Linked DNA regions of Homo sapiens: region 1 is reported to be linked to region 2. Evidence: microRNA targets listed by miRTarBase, many of them from high-throughput screens and not tested one by one. Region 2 holds a microRNA gene; the other region holds the end of a gene's coding sequence.
What was found. The annotated mature microRNA hsa-miR-4645-5p reads ACCAGGCAAGAAAUAUUGU and lies in region 2 at 1,925-1,943, shown strand. An mRNA with a match to its seed (bases 2 to 7 or 8) in the 3' UTR can be bound and repressed. Matches are read on the target gene's strand: a 7mer-m8 pairs with bases 2 to 8, a 7mer-A1 pairs with bases 2 to 7 and ends in A, and an 8mer does both.

Region 1 (3,400 bases), not on the chromosome of region 2:
GCCTCCTCCCGCAGAGACTGCACTCCCACCCACAGGAAGCAAGCCTGAGTCTTGGATCAGGTTCCCACCTGTGAGATCAGAAGGCACCAGGTATTTCTTTTTGTCCAGGTCTCCTATCCGAGCTTTGGGAGCCTTTTCTACTATCACCTGATAAAGAGATGAAAATTAGGAGACAGAAGGAATGCAGCCCCGAAGCTGCACCTGTCAAGAACTCAAGAAACAATATTCCTAGCACCTAAATCTACCCCAGATTCATCTCTTTGTCTTTGTACACGCGGTGCAGCACTGAGTCCCAGAGATCCTGACCTCACTGACTGGAGCTCATTTAAATATCCAGGATCCATCCCCCAATAGGGCGTCACCATAAACAACTATCTTAATCAGACGGAGGTGACTTGTTTGGGTCGACTAGTGATTCAATCTCGCAACCTTAGCTAGCTGGGGGGATGACCATTTGAAGCTCAGGCTGTCAAACTCTCTAAGGCCTCAAATGCTAAGGTTTCTCTCTCCTGTCCACATCCCTCTCAACCCCACATCCACCACTACCCCACTCCTTTCATCCTGGGTCCCAAGGACAGCAGTTTCAGGCTCGCTGCCAACCCCACCACAGCCAGCAGCCTGATCCCTGCGCTGCCTGTCCCGATCCAAGGCCAGGCTGTGGCGTCAGCGTAAGCGTCCCGCGCCCTCGGCCCTGGCTACTGTCCTCACCGGCACCCGGTCCGGGTATTTCTTTCGGATCTTCTCGCCCTCAGAGCGGCGCTTCTCGAACGGATGCTCTTCTTTGTACACGAACTTCATCCTCCCGGGAACCGGGCTGGACAGGGCTGGGCTGAGGGAACCCAGGGGGGCCGGGACGGGGGGCGGCGACGACGGCGGCGACGCGCGGGCGGATTCAGCGGAGCGATCCACGAATTTGCGCCACTTCCCTATTCACCAACCCCGCCCCCGACTATCGGGGACTGCCCCCCCCGCTAAGATACGCCACTACCTCAGCGGCGCTAACGCTGCTAGCGTAGCACCACCAACTGACCGGCCCCCTCACGCCATTAGCGTAATCGCTTTGGAATCAATTTGTGGGCTACGCAGGCGACGTAGCAAAGACGGTTGGCTTTTGCTCATCGAAAATTACTCTAAACCTATTCCCCAACCGTCCCCTCAAGGAAGCTGGGGCTGAAGAGGAGTAAAAGATGGTAATCATCATACGAGACTTGGTTCTCCAAGTTCCTTTCGTTAACAACGTAGAGGAACAGCAGGGACAATTACAAGGTTAGCTATTCACGAACCGTGTTGCTACGCTGAAGGCGGCCGTTGACACCAAAACAAAGTAGTACCCAAGTGGCGGAGATGATCTCCAGAAATAAGAAGTCAAAAAGAAAACAGATGTTTGGAGAGATCTACAGAACGCTTAAGTGCCAAAATGAGTAGACCAATAGGGACTGGAGAGGAGGTTGGAAAGGTAGGGACTACGCCAGCGCGGAGGAACACTGCGGGACTTGAGTTAAATCATGTGATCTCAAAGAGGGCGGAGCGTCACGTGGCGGGTGCGCGAAGTAGGGCCGGCTTGGGAGGGCGCCGGGGAGGCGGGGCCGGCTGGGCGACAGCTGGGAGGGGGACCGACGCCTTCCCGGACAGCGGAGGTCGGGGCGCCAGCCACCTGGGGGCAGCGCCCGCTTAACCTGTCCACGTCAGTGCCCCGGACGAAGCCCGGTTTCTCCAGCTCTACGCCCTTTGGCCGTCCAGGTTTCTCCTTTCGTGCTTCCATAGCCGGTTTCTCCTTTCGTGCTTCCATAGCCTGCTTCTCCGAAGGTGTCCTTCCACTCCCCACCAGCGCGCCCATCCTGTCACTCGGCCCTTCCCGCCAAAGCATCTGGTGTCAGCATTATTGTATCCCAGGCATCTGGTGTCCGCATTATTCTATCCCTATACTCAACGCCACCTTTCCCCCTGCCCCTTGAGTCCAACAGCAGTCTCTTCCCCCTCTGCCTGTGGGACAGGGTGCATGTGAACAAAGTCCCCTCTCTTCACTTCCCAAAACCCCAGAGAAGGACCTAAGGCCGCTTTGGTTTCAAAGTTATAATGCATGGTTTAAAAGAGAGAAAAGGAAAAAAGACACAAAGCTGGTTACAGGTCTGAGGGAGTCTAAGGAGAGAAAAATAGAGGGAGAGTAAAGGGGGGACAAATTTAGGGAAAATCCAGTGGCCCAAAATCCCAGTATCCCACCCACAGCCCAGCCCTTGGAGCAGGAGTGAAGAATTAGATCAGTTTTGTACAAGAGTTTTTTAAAAAAAATCAAATCACAACAAAGCTGACTTGGCTTCTCTTTGAGCCTCCTGGATCACCGTATGTCTGTCACTCTGGCCAGTCCTGCCTCTTCACAAACACTGATTCGGCTCTCCTAGGCTTCCGCCTGTGTCCCAGTCTGGGGTTTCCATGGAGTGTGAACACGAAGTTAAGAGTGAGGCTGCTTCAGAGCCCCTGGCCCATGTGTCCATCCAGACTCCAAGTGGAGTGTAGGGCTCCCAGGGCAGAGAGGGGTGGGAGGGGCAGACCCTGCCCAGGCAGTCCTCACATTGGACAGGGCATCAGACGGCATCCCAAGGGCTCGCCCTCCCTTTCCCCCCCACCCCAACTCAGGTGGAGGGGGAGCAGCTGTCACCAGAGCCGATGTTGGTGAAGGTTTCGGCTCAGCACGGAACGAACATCAGCGGTGAACCTGGGGTGACAATAACTTGCATTGGTAGAGTACCTTATAGTTCATACCCTCACAACACTCTTGTAAGGCAGCATCACTGGAGATGTGGGACCTAAATTATCACCATATTCATGATTAGATAGGTTCAATTTGCCCACAGCCTACTAGCTAAAGTGATGAGCTTTGAAGTAAGACGACCTGGGTCCAAATGTTAAATTCTTAAGGGAACAGAGTTAAAACAGGACAAACCTTTTTTATTCCCTCTGAGGATCCCCCACCTCCTCCTTTCTTGAGATATCCAAGTGTCCAGAGCCCACTTCCCTTACCTGAGGGCATCCAGCATTGGGAGCAGGTTGAGAAGGGCTGTGTCGCTGGGGTCACTGAACCAGGATTTGATGGGGATGGCATTGTCTAGGGTGGGTGAAAATGCAGATGAGAAGAAACAGAATTCAAGAGAGACGGTGTTTTTCTCTTCTTGGAGGGAAGGAGGAATTATTGTTAAAAATATATGCCTCCCACTACCGGAAGTCAACAACCTAAGTAAAACTTTCCTGGTTTATGCTCCGAAACTAAGTTTTAATCACCAGATCTCATACCTATTGATGCTTCTAGTCAAGCTTACTGCCATTGTGCCTCACTTGAAACACACTTGGCCAGGCGCAGTGGCTCACACCTGTTATCCCAACACTTTGAGAGGCCGAGGTGGGA
Region 2 (3,400 bases):
ATGTTCCATGAAAGAAATGCCATAAGAATGTTTTCTAAATCCTATGCTTAACTTCGGAATAGCGCAATTAGATTGCATTGCATTTTTGAAAGATCACTTGTTAAATACAAAATTTTAAAACATACCACAATATTTGGCACTTCATTTTCTTTATTAAACAAGGAGACTCAGAAAATCATAGTGGCCTGGGCCCATGTGAACCTCTGTGAAAGCCTCCCACAGGGAGAGAGGACTGGGATGCCATGGTCCTAGGTGGGAATGGGGGGAGCAGTGTAGGCCTCGGTGCGGACCCAATGCTGGGGCCCTAAGGCTCTCTCCTCTTTTCTTCCAGGTGGAAAATGAGCTTATATATGAAGAAGTCAGCGAGTGGACAAAGCCAGGCGCAATGGATAGCAAAGATGTGGAAGTCTCCTCGATTCAAGTTACAAGAAAACCGCAGCATGGAGTCTGCTCTCAGCTGTTGGGGAATTACCGATGCCTTTGACTAAGTCAAGACTGACTTTTCCAGAATATCACCCAAGAGATAGAGCCGTCCCTGTCCAAGTTTGTGCGCTAGCCCTTCATGGAGGTCAGAGAGGAAGAAACAAAGGCAGCTGTGGCCTCGGCGGTCACAGTGTCAGAACGCACAAGCCCCATAAAGAGGTTTCACGCAGGCCACCCATCCCTTTTCATTCTCCAGCAGAACAGGACAGAGAGCGTTCTGTTCTGCGGAAGGTCTTCCACTCTACAAGGCAATCCCTCCAGCTGCTTTGCTGTATTGTGCTGTCTCCTGTCACACTATGAATGCAGTGACCTCAGCCAGCAACAGGGAGAACCCCCCTGCCTCCCGAACAAAGGACCTCACGTGAAATCCTGAGCTCAGAGCTTACAGATATGTGTGCGCTTTCACTTTACATCGGCCGTGACTTCCAAACAACTTCAGGAAACTTTAGGATCTCTGAGGTATACTGGAGATGACAGCAGCGTAGAATGTTCATTTGGATTTAGAACAGAAATGCTTATTTTATATTTGGCTGCTCCCAAACTGTCCCCAGACTTCCTCTCCAGTGGTTACCCTCCACTGCCCTGGATGTCCCACGTTTACACTCCACACTCACACCTCCACCTTAACAAAGTCCTCCACTGGGTCAAACCATACATCGCTTCGTCTCTGTAGTGATGACTTCCTGTCCTCTGCTCTGTGGATAAAGACCCCAGATAAAGATGCCTGTGTTGCTCAACTCTTGTAAATACTCTTGAGACATTTTGAAAGCAGAAGGAAAGGAGACAGACGGGGAAAATAAAAGGGATGGTCTGCTTGTGCGGAAACGTTTTGAGAATGCCCTTCCCTAAGAGAGAACAGTAAAAGTGAGCAATACTTCCTGAGCTGTGGGTTCATATGGCTGGACTGTGCTGTTTCTCACGGGAGAAGTTCTCGTCTCCCCTGCGTGTACATCCCTGTTTGCCAGCCTGGCCTTCGGTGTGGTGATATCATGGTGCACTCCCAGGAGGGAAGTGCTTGGTCAAGACTTCTGCTTGGGTTCGACTATCAGTTCTGGTTTCCTTTAAGGCACAGGATCTTCCCTTTAAGGCACAAACACCCCCTTGACACAAAGTAAGGGACAAGGGAACTTTAAACCATTTGGAAACCCAAGCACAATAGGCTGTAGGTTGTAAAAAGAAATTACAAAGGTAATTTTATCCAGAAGAGGGAGCAGTTTAACTTCTGCAGGGTAAGATTCAGATTCACTTTTGTAACTGAACAGGGAATTTTCTAAATATTTTGAAAATGCCGAAACATTTCCTGTTGGCATTTCACAGAAACGTTCAAAGTTCCCTAATGATAGTTTCCGCTGTGCTCACTCCGGAGGCTGCTAAGCAACCTCAGTAATTAGCTCGATTGAGGAAACGAAACTGTGGGGGACTCAGTTTCCATGATAGGGAAACCAGGCAAGAAATATTGTCTCCTCAAGTTGCGACGAGACAGTAGTTCTTGCCTGGTTTCTCTATCATGGAGTCTTGGTTGGACTCTGCTATGCGTCTCTTGATGAAATGTGATACTAGCAATTGAACAATTAAGAAAATGGATGGCGGGGGGTGGAGCGGTTTGTCACTACTGGAGTTGCAGAGGCTCAGTGGGGGAACCTGAGAAACACTGCGTCCCCCAGGTCATCACCGCGTCAGCACTGATGAGTCATGTTGATGGCATGGACCCTGAATATGACACAATGAGATGTCACTTTACCTCTGTGGCCTTTCCCAGAAAAAACCATAACCCCAGTCTAACCATGAGAAAAATATAAGACAATGGTGCAGGCAGGGCATTTCAGGAGAGGGTCAGGTAAAGGGGAGGGGGTCCCAGGAGAGGGTCAGGGGAGGGGACTTCAGGAGAGGGACAGGGAGAGGGGAGGGGGCTCCAGGAGAGGGTCAGGGAAAGGGGAGGGGGTCCCAGGAGAGGGTCAGGGAAAGGGGAGGGGGGTCCCAGGTGAGGGTCAGGGGAGGGGACTTCAGGAGAGGGACAGGGAGAGGGGAGGGGGCTCCAGGAGAGGGTCAGGGAAAGGGGAGGGGACTTCAGGTGAGGGTCAGGGAAAGGCGAGGGGGTCCCAGGACAGGGTCAGGGGAGGGGACTTCAGGAGAGGGACAGGGAGGGGGGAGGGGGGCTCCAGGAGAGGGTCAGGGATAGGGGAGGGGGGTCCCAGGAGAGGATCAGGGGAAGGGGTGGGGCTTCAGGAGAGGGTCTGAGAACACACAGGCAGGCAACACCTTAAAATCCCATCTCAGTCAGCAATGACTCCTCATAGGGCCACCACGAGCTTAAATGTCACTTAAATGTCCCTATTTGCCAGCCTGGACTTCGGTGTGGTGATATCATGGTGCATTCCCAGGAGGGAAGTGCTTGGTCAAGACTTCTGCTTGGGTTCGACTGTCGGTTCTGGTTTCACATGCACTGTGTGAACACGCTTCATACAGAGGGTCAGCACCGCACTGTGTGAACATGCTTCATGCAGAGAGCCTGTACTGCACCAGGTGAACACACTTCATACAGAGAGTCAGCACCGCACCGTGTGAACATGCTTCATACAGAGAGTCAGCACCGCACTGTGTGAACACGCTTCATACAGAGAGTCAGCACCGCACCGTGTGAACACACTTCATACAGAGAGTCAGTACTGCACCGTGTGAACATGCTTCATACAGAAGATCAGCACCTCACTGTGTGAACACACTTCATACAGAAGGTCAGCAATGCACCGTGTGAACACACTTCATACAGAGAGTCAGCACTGCACTGTGTGAACATGCTTCATACAGAAGATCAGCACCTCACTGCGTGAACATGTGTTATACAGAGAGTCAGCACCGCACCGCGTGAACATCCTTCATACAGGTCAGCACTGCACCATGTGAACACACTTCAAAC

Region 1: miRTarBase lists CTDNEP1 as a target of hsa-miR-4645-5p. Seed matches in the 3' UTR shown: 7mer-m8 at 2,555-2,561.

The regions. Positions count from the first base shown.
Region 1 is chr17:7,241,533-7,244,932 of GRCh38, forward strand. It overlaps CTDNEP1 (CTD nuclear envelope phosphatase 1), which reads right to left. Exons shown (of 8, transcript NM_001143775.2): 7 at 3,019-3,103; 8 at 2,059-2,713. The coding sequence ends at 2,653. GABARAP (GABA type A receptor-associated protein) reads right to left here and starts at 917. Exons shown (of 4, transcript NM_007278.2): 1 at 709-917; 2 at 69-147. The coding sequence starts at 798. RefSeq lists enhancers at 74-625, 626-1,177 and silencers at 790-979, 1,570-1,679.
Region 2 is chr6:2,852,622-2,856,021 of GRCh38, reverse strand. It overlaps MIR4645 (microRNA 4645), which reads left to right and starts at 1,915; the gene lies at 1,915-1,991. It also overlaps the pseudogene SERPINB9P1. RefSeq lists enhancers at 629-758, 819-878, 1,455-2,195.